Linked DNA regions of Homo sapiens: region 2 is linked to region 1. A link means that fine-mapping ties the variant in region 1 to the expression of a gene that starts in the linked region. Tissue or cell type: whole blood. Region 1 holds a variant in brackets; the other region holds the start of a gene. All regions are shown on one strand. Distances are between the middles of the regions.

What was found. PIP is the estimated chance that this variant, and not a neighbour inherited with it, causes the effect.
Region 2: it holds the start of ANO9, and the variant in region 1 is fine-mapped to the expression of ANO9 in whole blood (INTERVAL, PIP above 0.99).

The regions. Positions count from the first base shown.
Region 1 is chr11:469,522-477,588 of GRCh38, forward strand. PTDSS2 (phosphatidylserine synthase 2) reads left to right here. Exons shown (of 12, transcript NM_030783.3): 3 at 4,374-4,456. Among named protein-coding and RNA genes, the nearest start is that of PTDSS2, 23 kb to the left of the region's middle. RefSeq lists enhancers at 1,813-2,336, 2,337-2,859, 7,372-8,067. The variant G/C (reference allele first, on the strand shown) is at 3,055.
Region 2 is chr11:437,181-445,247 of GRCh38, forward strand. It overlaps ANO9 (anoctamin 9), which reads right to left and starts at 4,831. Exons shown (of 23, transcript NM_001012302.3): 1 at 4,741-4,831. The coding sequence starts at 4,746. It overlaps LOC105376506 (a long non-coding RNA gene), which reads left to right. Exons shown (of 5, transcript XR_007062542.1): 3 at 1-1,571; 4 at 2,719-2,800; 5 at 3,305-3,493. It also overlaps the pseudogene RN7SL838P. RefSeq lists silencers at 4,605-4,684, 4,729-5,023 and enhancers at 4,855-5,124, 5,432-6,229.

The DNA of each region.
Region 1 (8,067 bases):
GGAGGAGGGGAGTCTCCGGGTAATCAGAGGGACGAGGTTGGAGTGGCCGCTGTGATGGTGGATTACCATTGCACGTTTAGCCCAGAAGAGACAAAGATGGTTAAACAGTGTGTGCGCAGTGGTTAATGGATACACACAGATCTTGTTGCTGTACAAGCTGAGGGGGCCTAGAACCAGCTATGCTTGCAGCAGTGAGCACACCCAGGCCCAGATCCTGGTTCCTAGTGCCCTCCAGTCCACGGGGCCAGGGCTCTGAGGAGAAATGGCTGATTCCAGCACCGGGGCAGGAAATGCCCAGGATCAGCTGATCCTGGCAGTTCCAGAAAGTGAGGAGCTCTGTAAACAAAACCCCACAGTCACGGGATTGCGTCCCAGTGAAAGAGCCTCCCAGTGGCCAAAGAGCAACAAAATAATAAAGTAGTATTAGAATATAACCCAGAGTAGAAAATAAACATCCACGAGCCCATAGTGATATAAGTGATTGAGTAAATAAACAGAGGGAACAAGACCAACCTTCCCTGCAGAAGGTTTTCAGTAAATGAGGTAGATCCCCCCATTCCAGGAGCTGGCGTGAGCTCCCGGCACCGCTGTGCGCTGCGCGTGGTGACCTGACCTCCTTCCTGGGCGTGCAGCACGGAGAGGGCAGTGGGAGGAGGACGCTGCAGCCGAGGTGCCCGCAGACACCCCCAAGCCCAGTGGTCAGGTCAGCATGCACTGGTCATGTTCATGGCGTGGCCGACGGGGAGGCTGCTGCCCCATCCTCCCAACCCCGACGACCCCAGCCCGGCCATGCAGAGGCATAGTCGACCATCTCACTAAGGAACATTCCACAGAATTCCTGACCAGGCCTCCTCCAAACCATCCAGGTCATCAGAGACAAGGAGAGTCTGAGAAACCGTCCCAGCCTCGGGGAGCCTGAAGAGACAGAACGAGTAGATGCCATGTGGCTTCCAGGAAGAGATTGTTGGGGGCGGGGCAGGGGGAAGGACATCAGGGGAGAGCGAAGGAAGTGTAGGCCTCAGCAGCTGTGTGGCAGCACTGGCTTATTTATTTTTTATTTTTTATGTTTATTTTATTTTATTTTTTGAGACAGAGTATCACTGTGTCACCCAGGCTGGAGTGTAGTGGCGTGATCTCGGCTCACTGCAACCTCCGCCTCTCGGGTTCAAGTGATTCTCCTGCCTCAGCCTCCCGAGTAGCTGGGATTACAGGTGCCTGCCACCACATCTGGCTAATTTGTGTATTTTTAGTAGAGATGGGGTTTCACCATGTTGGTCAGGCTGGTCTCGAACTCCTGACCTTGTGATCCGCCTGCCTCAGCCTCCCAAAGTGCTGGGATTACAGGCGTGAGCCACCGCACCCAGCCAGCACCGGCTTATTAATGGTGAGATGTTAATGGGAAAACTGGGCCTGTGAGATATGGGAGCTTTTACTATTTTTACAATAATTCTGTAAATCTAAAACCATTCTAAAATTAAAAATTTATTTTTAAAATGCAATATATTTGTTTTCCTTTTAAAGCACTTCCCTCATTCTTACCCAACGGGACACACCTTCTCAAGTACTTAAGTAATTCTTTTTTTTTTTTTTTTTTGAGACTGAGTCTTGCTGTCACCCAGGCTGGAGTGCAGTGGCGCGATCTCAGCTCACTGCAACCTCTACCTCCCAGATTCAAGTGATTCTCCTACTTCAGCCTCCCGAGTAGCTGGGATTACAGGCGTCTGCCACCACACCTGGCTAATTTCTTATATTTTTAGTAGAGACAGGAGTTTCATGTCGGCCAGGCTGGTCTCGAACTCCTGACCTTTAATGATCCACCTACCTCAGCCTCCCAAAGTGCTAAGATTACAGGTGTGAACCACTGTGCCCGGCAAGTAATTCTTATGAACAAATTAGCCTTATAAAGTTGTCATAAACATTATGTGATGTGTGGCCAGGTTAGAGTCCTGTGTGACCCGGTCTGAGCTGGCCTCTGGGCAGCATGCCGTGTGGGGGCTGCCACAAGCTGATTCAGGGAGCACCGGCCTGGGGTGACGCACGCCTGTCGGGCGGAGGGCGGCCTGGGGTGACACGGATGGTGGCCTGGGATGACACGCGCCTGTCAGGCGGAGGGCGGCCTGGGGTGACACGCACCTGTCTGGTGGATGGCGGCCTGGGGTGACGCGCGCCTGTCGGGCGGATGGTGGCCTGGGGTGACGTGGATGGCGGCCTGGGGTGACGCAGATGGTGGCCTGGGGTGACGCGGATGGCGGCCTGGGGTGACGCAGATGGTGGCCTGGGGTGACGTGGATGGCGGCCTGGGGTGACGCGGATGGTGGCCTGGGGTGACGCGGATGGTGGCCTGGGGTGACGCGCACCTGTCTGGTGGATGGCGGCCTGGGGTGACGCGCACCTGTCGGGCAGATGGTGGCCTGGGGTGACGTGGATGGCGGCCTGGGGTGATGCAGATGGCGGCCTGGGGTGACGCGGATGGCGGCCTGGGGTGACGCGGATGGCGGCCTGGGGTGATGCGCGCCTGTCGGGCGGATGGTGGCCTGGGGTAACGCGGATGGCGGCCTGGGGTGACACAGATGGTAGCCTGGGGTGACGCGGATGGCGGCCTGGGGTGACGTGCGCCTGCACCGGGAGCAGCTTCCCTTGGCCAGTGCCCATGTTCCTCTTTTCATTTTTATCTTTTCTGGGGAGGGTAGGGGGACGTTTTACTGTCTTTCCACTGAATGTTATGACCCTCCCCACGCCCCTTGGAGGCACAGCTGAGGTGGGGCCTATGTCTGGCTCCAGGGGGCCCTGAAAGGTACTTTTTACACCTCCCACCCCTCAGCACTGAGAGACCTCGGGAGGGGTACCGGTGACAGGGACGCGGGCCCCACCTTGCTGAACCCAGCAGCGAGGGCATCTCTGCCTCTGTCCCTGGAGGCTGACAGCGGTAGTGTGGGAGCTGGGGCCTGGGTGGAGACCGGGTCAGAAACTCAGGTTTCGCCTGGGTGGGCCATGAATGTCCTGCCGAGGGTGAGACCCTCAGGGCTCTGGGTGGAGAGCAGCACCTGCCCAGAA[G/C]CAGTAGACCCTTGTCCCGGCTGCACCAGGGGCCAGCGACCTTGTGCCCTCCTCCATCCTGCAAGCCTCGGGCGGTGCTTGGCCTCACCTGCCTCTGTCTACTCAGGACTTTGAGGCCAGGCACTCCTGCAGGCAGAGAGGGGAATTTCTGAGACTGAAGTTGTTACTGGGTATTTTTTAACAGCGCTGTCTTAAAAAATAGATAGCGTGTCTCTGTGGCCCCGTCTATTCTTGCGGCCACACGAACGTGCGTGTGTGTGTGCAGCTTCCCTCACGGCAGCCAAAACCCAGAGGCCGCCCAGCGTGCGAACACGCCAAGGTGTGACTGTCGGCACGGCACTGCCGAGCCGTGGGAGGGACTGGGTGGTGCAGCGGCCAGTGGATCTCAGACCCTGAGCTGAGCACGACTGGAGAGGATGGGTGCATCCGAGCGTCTGCAGAGCACAGAGCGCGTCCGCAGAGCGGGTCCACACCTTGGGTGCAGCGAGCGGATGTGAGCAGTGTGCCTGTGACCAGGGCTGTCTGCACATCCGCCGGCCTAAGCTGCTGCTCACCGAAACCCACTGGGACTCTGGCTGAGGCCGGCCCCAAGGAGCTTTGCCGAGGAGGGAGCACCTTGCCCCTGCCCAGAGCGGTCCCTCGCATCCTCCTTCCCGTGAACCTGCATCTTTGGTTGCAGTTACAGCTCTCACGCTTCCATCTTATGAATCACAGGAGTCCCGTTGGTTTTGGATGAGTTGACACCAAAAAGACACAGGAGCTCTCTAGAGACACTTCCTGGGGGTCCTGCCGCGTTGGAGCAGGGAGGCAGTAGCTCCTGACGCCTTCCCTCCTACGTGGGCTTTGTGATCACTGATGGTCACATGCGGGGCATTCGGTGGCCTCTGTGTAGAGCCAGTGTCTTCCTGATGTGACACTGGGAACCACCAGCAGCCCAAGCACAGGGACCTTCTCCTGGCCACTGGGCGGGCTGCAAATGTGAGGGCGAATGTTGGGTGCAGGGTGGTGGAGGTAGCTGGGCCTTCCCTGCCGCGGAGGAGGCAAATGTGAGCGCGAATGTCCAGCCCAGGGTGGTGGAGGTAGCTGGGCCTTCCCTGCCGCGGAGGCGGCAAATGTGAGGGCGAATGTCCGGCCCAGGGTGGTGGAGGTAGCTGGGCTTTCCCCGCGGCGGAGTCGCCCAGCTCTGCCCGAGGCCCCTTCCTCCCGCCCCAGCATCAGGGGCTGTTCCACAATGGGTGTCTGGGGGTCCCTGCAGCCTCCCACCTCCCTCCTGGGAGAAGCCTGCACACACTGAGGGGCTGTTTGTTCTTTATTTGCAGAGGTATTGTGGCCAGTATTTTGGTTTTCTTATGTTTTGGAGTCACACAAGCTAAAGACGGGCCATTTTCCAGACCTCATCCAGGTAACTTGCCATTTCCTTTTCCGTGTGCCCCTGTGGCATTTCTGTTCTGAGCGGCCACTCTGTGTCTGTGCTGCTGGGTGTGAGTGTCCTGTCCTCCCCTCCGCCTGGCCCCTCCCCGAGGCCTCCGAGGCCACTTCCCACATGGACAAGGGCGTGGGGTTCTGAGCTGGCCGTGTGCTCCTCCTCCAACCACCGAGGGTCTCTCCAGGCCTTCTCTGGCCCTTTCACTCTTCCCTGTCCAGGGCTCTCCAGCCCTTCTCTTCCTGCTTCTGCCTCCTCTTTCCACAGACCAGAGTGGCCGAGGGCTCCAGATGGGGCTATGAGGCCGGGGGCAGGTGGGTGAGGGCACCAGATGGGGCTGTGAGGCCAGGGACTGTGGGCTCTAGGTGGGACTCTGAGACCAGAGGGGGCGGGGGTGGGTGAGGGCGCCAGATGGGGCTGTGAGGCCATGGGCGGGTGGGTGAGGGCTCCAGATGGGGCTGTGAGGCCATGGGCGGGTGGGTGAGGGCTCCAGATGGAGCTGTGAGGTGCCGCCCACCCCCTGCCCTTGAAGTGGTTGCCCAGCGCACTCTGCCTCAGCCACCACCCCACCTTATGGCCCTGAGTTCTAACAAACCCTCGTGGGCCAGAGCATCCCGCCAATCTCAGTGTACTCTGTCCCCCAAGTCCCACCCCAGGAAGGCGGGCTCAGGCTTCTGTAGGGTCGGTTGTTTCCCCTGAGTGGCCACACGAAGTAATTAGAAACATTTTCTGTTTCAACAGGAGTATGTATTATAGAAAATTTCGAAAATACAAAGATACTTAAAAATAAAGCTACCCACAAATAATAACCACTGTTAAATTTTCACGTGTTTGTGATACGGACATATTCACTTGTTTGTGTATACGGACATATTCACGTGTTTGTGTGTGCGGACATATTCACACGTTCGTGTACGGACATATTCACGCGTTTATGATACGGACATAATCATGTCTTTGTGTATATGGACATGTTCACGCGTTTGTGATACGGACATATTCACGAGTTTGTGTGATACGGACATATTCACGTGTTTGTGTGATACGGACATTCACGCGTTTGTGTGATATGGACACATTCACGTGTTTGTGTGTGGGACATATTCACGCGTTTGTGTGATACGGACATATTCACGCGTTTGTGTGATACGGACATATTCACGCGTTTGTGATACGGACATATTCACGCGTTTATGATATGGACATAATCACGTCTTTGTGTATATGGACATGTTCACGTGTTTGTGTGTACGGACATATTCACGCGTTTGTGATACGGCCATATTCACGCGTTTGTGTGATACGGCCATATTCACGCGTTTGTGTGATACGGACATTCACGCGTTTGTGTGTAGGACATATTCACATATTTGTGTGTATGGACATATTCACGCGTTTGTGATACAGACATATTCACGCATTTGTGTGTACAGACATTCACGCGTTTGTGTGATACGGATATATTCACGCATTTGTGATACAGACATATTCACGCGTTTGTGTGATACGGCCATATTCACGTGTTTGTGTGATACGGACATTCACGCGTTTGTGTGTAGGACATATTCACGCGTTTGTGTGTACAGACATATTCACAGCCTCGAAAGAGTGGAATCCTGAACACGTGGCTTTGTGCATTCTCCACTTCAGGTTCAACGACTTTAGTCATTTCCTTACTAATTTTTAAAATGACTTTAATCATTTAGGTTTAAATGACTTTAGTCATTTCCTTACTAATTTTTTAACACCCGAAATTTTAATGACTGCTTGTTTGCTGTCATTAGAATGTACTACATTTAACTAACTTATTTAAGCCATAATATTGTATATTTAGAGAGTTTCCAGTTTTATTTTAATAAACTAGGCTGTGGTGAATTTTTTCACGTATGCTCTGTGTAAATATCTGATTATTCATTTAATAAAATGTCCCAGAAGTGAGTATTGAATTAAAGGGCATACACAGTTTAAGCCTGTGATATGTGTTATAAAATTGGCCTCCAGGAGAGCAGTGTCTGCCCCAGGGTCAGTGCCATGGTGGTGAGTGAAGCTCCCCCACCCACAGAGGCCCTGAGCAGGGAGCCGTCCGGTGACCCAAGCAGGCTGGTCTTGCTGGCCCCTTCCTTGCCCAGGGCCTTGAGAGAGGGCTCCTTGAGTGCCTGGCAGGCCACTCTGCTGGCTGACAGCTGTGTGGGAAGGGCCCAGGGCCCTGTCTGCCCAGCCGGCTGAGCACAGACGGTCTTGCCTCCAAGGGGTTTGGATTCCTCAGCAGAGCCGTGGAAGGTGCAGTGATGGTGAGAAACTGCCCGTCACACAGTGAAAAGCCTGGCGCCGTGACGGTGAGAAACTGCCCGTCACACAGTGAAAGGCCTGGCGCGGTGATGGTGAGAAACTTCCCGGCACACAGTGAAAAGCCTGGTGCAGTTACGTGCTTGTTGGGTGGATTTGGAGGGAAGAAAAGCTGCCGGAAGCTCAACCCATGGCCGTCCTTGCTTGGAGATGCACCAAATCCCTCCTGGGTGGCGGCATCACTGGGGACTGGGACGCAGCCGTGAGTGGGACAGACTGGTCAGCAGGCAGCAGCTTGTCCTGGCATGTGACCCCTGGCACAGGGAGAGACTCCCGGGAGACCCTCAGCTCTGAGCAGTCAGGAGCTCTGGCGCAGGTCACCTGGCGGGATGTGGAGCATCTGGGCCTGAAGGTCTTGGCGCTTCCAAAAGCTCCGGCCGCGGCGTCTCTTGAGTTGTGGCTCGTCCCCTCCCACTGGGCAGGACTGGGGGTTCCTGGGGTGTTCAGTTTTTAGTCTGAGCTCTGCTCTACCTTTCTTCTGTCCGTTTAGTTTGCTTGGCATAAATTCCATATTACTTTGCCAATCTTCGATTTATTGACGGGGAAGCCTGTCCTGGAGCCACCTTCTTCCACGCGTCTTGTTAACTTGGGGGCCGGCAGGGAGCCCTCAACTCTCTGCAGTCACAACACATTGAAGTGGACAAGTGATGAGTCCTGTGCAGCGGAGGCTCTGGGTGGGGGGCAGGGAGAAGGGCTTTCTCCAGAAAGGTGGTCCCTGTGGGCTCTGCCCACCTTCACACTCCCCTGGGTCTGGCCCAGGAATGCCCAGTCCGGCAGCTGTAGCCGTAGCCATTAGTGACTGGGCCTCATGAGGAGGAGTGGAAATGGGCCCAGCCCGGCCATCTGGGGTGCTGCTTTCTTTGGAAACTTGAGTTGGCTGCAGCTCTGAGGGAGGTGGAACGTTCTGGGCCACTGAGGAGGGCATCCCTCCTGTGTGAACGGCATTTTCTTCCTGGCTCCCTCTGAAGGCTGTGTCAGCCACAGCATTTCCAGGGCTGCTGAGGCTGCCTGTCTGTCTTTCCCCTCTGGTGTGATGTTTAGAAAGACAAATGAGTGCTGGGGCCTGGGGGGTGGCCCTGGGGTCAGGGAGGTGCTGGAGCTGCTCCGGGAAGCGACCCAGGAATGCAGACCAAGGGCCTGCTGGGTATTCCGGGGCGGCAGCCTGGTGCTGGTCGGGTGGGAAGCGTGAGTGGGGAGAGGAGTCCGAGATGCCACCTTTCTGATCTGGGGAGCTGGGGCCTTCC
Region 2 (8,067 bases), 32 kb before region 1:
TTATGAGAATCTAATGCCTGATGATCTGAGGTGAGACGATTTCATCCCAAAACCATCCCACCACACCCACAGCTGTGGGAAAATTGTCTTCTGCGAAACTGGTCCCTGGTGCTGAAAAGGTTGGGGAGCACTGCACTAAGGCATCCGACGCCCCGGTCACAGGGAGATGGGCTCAGGTAGACACCATCTGAGCACCCAGTGCCACACTGCAGCCTCCCTGCGGGGGGAAGTTCTTGCCCTAGTTGGCCCACGGGGCTCACCTGGCCCTTCTGTCCTATCCTAGACCAGTAGTTCTTCCTGCCTCAATCAACCCTTCCTCTGACTCCCTCCTTGGCCTTCCCGACAGCCCACGGACAGATACCTGCACTCAGGCGTGGCCTGCCACACTGAAACTTCTCCCCCGTCCTGGGTTAGAGGAGAAACCTTCATCCTCCGACAGATATGCAGGAAGGGGCGTGGCACCTGCCCAGGCAGGAGAGGCACCTCTGTCTCAGCGCAGAGGGCAGCCTCCCTGGGGGGGACTGGTGGTCTGGGGGACGTGGGCATCACGGCTCCAGCTCTGCAGCTTGCCTCCGTAGGGGCCCGGGAAGTGTTGTGTTGGAGGGATTCATGGGAGAATGGCCCCTCACATGCCTGGCTTCAGACCCAGGATGAGGGTCCCTCCTCTGCCCAGAACCCCAGCTCCTCTGGCAGAGGCTGAAATTAGAGACCCCCTCACATCAGCCTGGGCCGAAAGTTGAAAGCCGGCAGGATAAGCCCAGACCCCTGAGAAGGAAGGGACGAGGCAGGGACCCCAGACCAGGCAGGACTTTCGGAGAAGCCTGGGAGAGGGGACTGTCCCTGGGGAACATTCTCAAAGGTGGGGGTGGGAAGCCATCGTTCACCCCAGAAATGAGGCACAGAAACCCCCTCCCCACCAAAGACACCGTGCAGCACTGGGGTGATGACCCCACGCCTCTGCAAACAGCAGGATCAGCCTCCCCTGGGGAATGGGGTGCAAAGCCCCCATCACTGACGTGGGCTGACAGGGAGCCCTCCCCCCAGGGCAGAGCTACACGCACACCTGGGGCGTGCCAGCCCCTGGCTGCCCTTAGCTGCTCCCTCGGACAAGGCAGAAGCACTAGGGCTGCCAGGTGTAGCCCCCGCCGACACACACAGCCAGACAGGTGGAGTCCCCCCAACACACACAGCCAGACAGGTGTAGCCCCCCCCCGACTCACACAGCCAGATAGGTGTAGCCCCCCTGACACACACAGCCAGACAGGTGTAGCCACCCCCTGACACACACAGCCAGGCAGGTGTAGCCCCCCCAACACACACAGCCAGACAGGCCTCAGGCTCCGAGACTCTGCTGCAGAACACTGGGCCCACCAGCCTCCAGGACCGGGCCGTCCATCTGTCCATCCGTCTCCAGGGCCAGTGTTTACGGAGCCACACCCACCGGCCCATCCCCCGGGCCACAGCCACCAGCCTACAGGACCAGGCCATCCATCTGTCCATCCGTCTCCAGGGCCAGTGTTTACGGACCACGGGAGCCTGGCTTCTCCACACCACCCTCGGGGTCTTCACAGGTGAGGGCTGGACCACCTGAAGTCACCTCCACTTCCAGCCATGCAGACTGTTCGGTTTATCCACAGTGAGATGTCTGGGACCCCCATGTCCCCAGTCCATGGGCCCCACCTCCGGGAAACTATGTATGGGCCCACAGGCTTCCAGCTCCCAGGGTAGGGACAGGGGCTGTCCCTACACACTCAGTCTGAGGGCCTCTGAAGCTTCAGCCAGCCTTGCCATCTGCAAACCCAGAGAGGGAGGCCGGCTCTGGGTGGACAGCCGGCCAGGCCCTAGCTCTGACGCCACCGAAACACCCCAGGCCTCAGTTTCCTCGTCTGTACAACAGGGTGTCCTCACCCCAGCCCCCAGGTCACCTCAGCGACGTGCAGACACAGGAAGAAGGTGGACAGAACCACACACTGTTCTCCCCCATCCTTCCTGTCCCACAGCCCTCACAGGTGACACACCCAGTACTCCAGGGCCCCAGGGAGTTTGTGGGGGGCTCTTGGCACCCCCATTGTGGGCATAGGCCAGCGTCCAGTGGGCAAGCCCCTGGTTCCCAGTGAGGAAGCTTCTGGAGACACTGTAGCCTGCAGGAGACCCTCCCTCCCAAGGGCTGGAGTGTGAGGACAGAGCTGGGGGTCCTGCCCATCCATCCTCTTCCCAGTCCAGCCTCCAGGTTGGGGGCAGGCAGAGGAGATGGTTGTGCAGATATGACCCCACCCTACTCCTGAGAGGCCTGGCCAGGGGGTCCCATGACGCACATCCCCCCAGCTGTGCATGAGAAGGAGCAGGCCTGGCCAGGGGGTCCCACGACGCACATCCCCCCAGCTGTGCATGGGAAGGTGTTTGGGCCTCATCTCCTCCTGAGGTCACGTCAAGCCTCTTGGCCGGTGCCCTGAGCCCTCTGGGATCTGGCCCTTGAGAACTTTACAGTTTCGTCATCCACAGAGGGTCCCCTTCTGCCCCACCGCAGTCCCAAGCATGGAGAGGCCCACCTTGTGAGCCACAGCGTCTCGCCTCTGCCCAGCCCACGCATCCTCTGAGCAAACCCTCCCCAGCTGGCTCTGCGCTCCTGAAGCCAGTCTTCTGCCCACCCCCCGGCCCCTCCAGCTGTCCAGTCTGTCATCTGTCAGTTCACCCATCCGTGTGCCCGTCCATCCCCAGACACTGACGGAGCGACCTGCGTGCAGCCCTCCCAGGCAGTGCGTGGCGTTCGTGGACGCAGGGGCGGGGGCCTACTTGGCAGGTGAGGAGGCATGGAGCTTGGCATTGTAGGGCAAGAGGTTGGCAAAAGGTGAGAAAATGGGGGCAGCATTCCCGGGAGAAAGAACATGTGTGGGCACGCCCTGAGAATCAGGGTGCAGTTGGTGTCTGGGACTCAGCAGTCAGCACCTCCCAGGGACTCAGCACTCAGCACCTCCAAGGAGGACTTGGTAGCTACTACTCCTGGTGACTCAGCACTCGGCACCTACGGAAACTGAGTCCAGGGACTCAGTCCTTGGTACTTCAGCTTTGCAGAAGCATAAAGGGCAAGAAGGGAGCTGCCAGAAGGGGAGGCTGGAGGTTGGCAGAGGCCAATCAGGGGAGGCTGCTAGGCTTCTTGGCCAAATGGAGAGCTTGGACTTCAGCAGGGGGCAGTGGGGAGCCATGGAAGGGGTTAGAGCAGAGGAAAGGCACGCCCAGATCCAGCCTGGAGCTGGGACTAGCAAGTCCTCCCCATGTCTGCAACTGTCCTTTTTGATCACCACAGGAGTTTTGACCTGCTCCGTTTCCGACCTGGACCGGTTCACCCCTCCTTAGGCAACTTGGTGGTCCCCTGCTCCTGGGAGGTCACCATACTGATGTGCGGACAGCCAGTCAGCCTAACACACTACAGCCCAGAACTCCCAGGCTCGAGCAACCCTCCTGCCTCAGCCTCCGGAGTAGCTGGGACCGCAGGCTCATGCCACCACGCCCGGGTTCCAGCAGTCCTCCTGCCTCAGCCTCCCGAGTAGCTGGGAGCGCAGGCACGCGCCACCACGCCCGGGTTCGAGCAGTCCTCCTGCCTCAGCCTCCTGAGTAGCTGAGACTGCAGGTGCATGCCACGACGCCCGGGTTCAAGCAATCCTCTTGCCTCAGCTTCCGGAGTAGCCGGGACCACAGGCATGCGCCACCAGGCCCGGCTGCAACTGTCTTTTTTGAAGGACTGATGCTCTCACTTCCAACAAACCAGGTGCTGCTTCTCCCAACCCAACCCCTGGCCAGCCCCAAGTCTCTCCTCTAACCCCCAGCATGGGAGGAAGGGGCTGGCAGAGGGGACCCTGAGCTCAGGCTAAGGGGCATCAGGTGCTGGGCTGAGCAGCCAGGGTGTCAGACCTGGATGTGGAGGGCCGAGGAGAGCCCTGGGCGGAGATGGAGCAAGAGGCCGCCGGCGCAGCCCACACGTGGAGGCCCTGGCAGGCCGAGAGGGAGGCTGGTTTCACTCCACACCTCACCACTGCCTCCTCCCTGGGCCGACCAGGTGCTGACCTGCCCAGGTGTTGGCCCTGGCCCCAGGTGACCTCTTCACTGGCAGAGGGGAGAAAGGATGTCTTTCTACGTGTTCACCTGCACTCCCTCCCCCAGAATCGGAATCCAGCAGCAGCAGTCAGCGCCCACCCCCAGAATCGGAATCCAGCAGCAGCAGTCGGCCCCCACCTGTGCTGGGCGGGGTCCTTGGGGAGCAGAGAGCCCACAGCCCGCCGGCCACTCTGCAGCTCCCAACCCTGGGGCAGCCTGCCTGGTGCCCACAGCCCGCTCCCCCTTAGGGGCCAGCTGCAAGGCAAAGCTGCCAGGTCTGGGGTCCTCAGCAGCAGCCCCCGCCTCGGTGGGCAGGCCCTCTCCATCTCGTGTTCAGGACTCTGGTAGAGGTTCCTGGCCCCACACACTAGCTGAGAGCCCAGCCCTGGTGCCCTCAGAATCCCGGGCTGGAGGGAGGAACGCCGCCCGCCTCCAGCACTTCCAACCCCCAGCGTGCCCCAGGAGTCCAGGAGGCAGCTTAGCTGAGCCGGGCGGTCACCCTCGCCTGACCGGGCAGCCTGCAGGGACCCCCCCCACACACACAGGCGCCTTCCAGGTGGGGCTGGCGGGGGGCTGGGGCCGGGGGCCCCAGGTGTGGGCGTGGCTGGGGGCCTTGAAGGTGTGGACCCTTTTGAGCGCAGGACTCACCTGCATGCTGGCTGTGGCCGGAGTTCCAGCTGGGGTTTGGCGGCCAGGAGAGTGGCTGCCAGCGGCGGGTGCTCCTACCTGACTTCCGCGTGGGGCTCGCCCCTCCCTCCTCCTCCTCCAGCGTCCTGCAGCTGCCGCGCCTGGGTGTAGTCGGGGCGGAGCCAGCATCCAGGCCAGGAGAGTACCCCAGCCCCTGGAGCCTGGGACACCTTCCTGGAGCCCAGATGGCGGGTCAGGGGCCAGAGGGGAATTCCTAGGCTGGAGTTCCCGGGAAGGGGGTTTCCACTGTGAGATGGGTCTCATGACACCTGGTCCTAGGGGGAAGCAGGATGGCACAGAGCCCCTGACAGAGCCAGCACCAACGCCCCCACTTGCCTTGCCTCTCTCACCCCCGCTCACACATCCCCATGTTCCCTCCAAAAGCATCCCACCCCAGGCCATGCCCCCCACCCCGGGCCACGGCCCCCCACCCCGGGCCACGGCCTCCCCCACCCCGGGCCACGGCCTCCCCCACCCCGGGCCACGGCCCCCCACCCCGGGCCACGGCCCCCCACCCCACAGGTCCAGTGCTGATTCCCTTAGAGGAGAAACTGGGGCAAGGAGGACTGACGACGAGACAGACTCCCAAAGAAACTGTCTGCTCCTACCCAAGCCCCTGCTTTCTGGGCCCCACTGGGGAATCCTTGGAGTCCTGGGGACACGTGGCTGGCCCCAGGCTGTGTAGACAACGGAGGAGGAGCCCTCCACCCCGCATCCCCAGTCCCTGAGCACGTTCTGTGCAGCCTGGGCTGAGGGCGGCAGCTGGGCAGGCTCTGGGTGTCCTGAGAGTGACCGTCCAGTGGAGTGCCCTGAGGAGGGAAGGGCTGCGGGGAGTGGGGGCCCAGGCCGTGGGCTGGCACACATTATCTGCAGCGTGTGTGGCGAGGAGTCTGCTTCTGAAAGCTGCTGCAAAGCTGGGGAGGCAGGGCCAGAGCTCCGCAGGCAGACGCTGTCACACGGAACGGCTCCAGGCCCACTGGGGCCAGAGCACCCCCCGGCAAGCCCAGCAGCCCTCTGCTGTGGTCCAGGCCCAGGGCCAACAGTCGGCTCTGGTTTCCCCAAGGGGTAACATGGTCCCACCCATGTTTCTCCTTGGGGGACCTCCTGGCAGGCTGGGATGGCAGCAGAGACCACAGCTTTGCCACTTTGGCAAAGACAAGCGAGTGAAGTGGTGGCCGAGGACCTGTGAGCTCAGATGGGGCAAATCCAAATGGAACACATTCAGATCTGTGTGCAAAATGGTGGTGGCTTAAACAAGCTGTGTATTTCTCCTATAAGTGAAATCTGGAGTTGGCCGGGCGCAGTGGCTCATGCCTGTAATCCCGGCGCTTTGGCAGGCCGAGGCGGGTGGATCACCTGAGGTCAGGAGTTCGAGACCAGCTTGCCCAACATGGTGAGACCCCGTCTCTACTAAAAATACAAAAATTAGCCAGGTATGGTGGTGCACGCCTGTAATCCCAGCTACTCGGGAGGCTGAGGCAGGAGAATCGCTTGAACCTGGGAGGCAGAGGTTGCAGTGAGCCAAGATCACACCACTGCACTCCAGCCTGGGTGACAGAGTAAGACTCTGTCTTTAAAACAAAGCAAAACAAAAATCTGGAGTTGGCTAGTCCTGGACTAGTATGGCCGAACTATAGTCATCAGAGACCCAGAATGCCTTCAGCTTGTTGCTCTGCCACCTTAAATACATGGTCCCAGCACCTGGTCCAAAATGACTGCTCAAGCTCCAGTCATCACATCCACGTTCCAGCCAGTGGGAAGAGGAAAGGGCGAAGGAGGGAACCTCACCCTTCACATGGTTAGTCACGTGACCACACTCTATGGCAAGGAAGCCTGGGGCATGTGAGCTCTTTTCCCATGGAAGAAAGCAGGGTAAGCGGGAGAGGGAACATCCGGCAGTCTCACCAGGGGGTCACAGCTGCCAAGTTAGATCTAGTTCAGAAACAGAATGTGCAAGGCTTGTTGAGTATGGGAGGAACTCACACGCAAGATCCACGTTCCCAGCCCCTGCACCGTCCGTGACGGGTGTCGCTCCCCAGTCCCCAGCTCAGCCCGCTCAGGGGTCTCTGTGCTCATGTTTTCACACTGTGTTAAAACAATCTTCGGCTGGGTGCGGTGGCTCATGCCTGTAATCCCAGAGCTTTGGGAGGCAGAGGTGGGTGGATCACGAGGTGAGGAGTTCAAGACCAGCCTGGCCAAGATGGTGAAACCCCATTTGTACTAAAAATACAAAAAATTAGCCAGGCGTGGTGACAGGCGCCTGTAATCCCAGCTACTCAGGAGGCTGAGGGAGGAGAATCATTTGAACCCGGAGGGTGGAGGTTGCAGTGAGCCAAGATCGTGCCACTGCACTCCAGCCTGGGTGACAGAGTGAAACTCCGTCTCAAAATAAATAAATCAATAAATAAATAATAAAACAATCTCCACGTTTTCAGTGTGTTAAAACAATCTGCTAGCAGGTCATGTGAGTTACTCAGGCGCCACTTCAAGTGTCCACACAGCTGCTGTGCTCTCTTTCAATGACTTTTTCAGCATTCCCAGTTGCGTTGCAGAAACACTGTTCCTCCTCCCCCCACACCTTCCGTGGGCGTCACCAGAGGAATCCTCAGTCACTTCCAGAGTCCTGGCTGTAAAGCCAGCATATCCAGCTTCAGGGGAGAGAGCTCAGCGAGGCGGCTGCATTGGCCGCTGGCCTCACCCAGCGTGGAAGTTCCCTTACGATCAGTGAAGGGTGGAGAGGGAGGGGGACCCCACCCAGTCCTATCTGGACAGAAAACCAGTACAGCCCTTTCAGAAAGCAATTCAGCTATAATACGTATTAAGAGCCTTAAAATTGTTTAGACTTTGGTTCATTAATCTAACTTTTTGTAAACTGTTCTAAAAAAATGCAAAATAATGAAAATATGTATATATGTCATTTGCAGCAAAAATTGTAAACCACCAATGTTCAACAATAGGAAAATATCAGCGAAAACATGGTATTCATATTTATATGCTGATTAAGCAGACATTAGAAGTTATACTTTCAAAGAGTTTTTGAGAACATAGGAAAATGCTTATGTTATACTGCTAAGTAAAAAAAACAGACTACAAACATATAAAAATTTTTCCTAGATTAAAAGAGATTTATTTATTCTTTTTATTTTTTGAGACGGAGTCTTGCTCTGTTGCTCAGGCTGGAGTGCAGTGGCAGGATCTCGGCTCACCACAACCTCCGCCTCCTGGGTTCGAATGATTCTCCTGCCTCAGCCTCCCAAGTAGCTGGGATTACAGGCATGCACCACCACG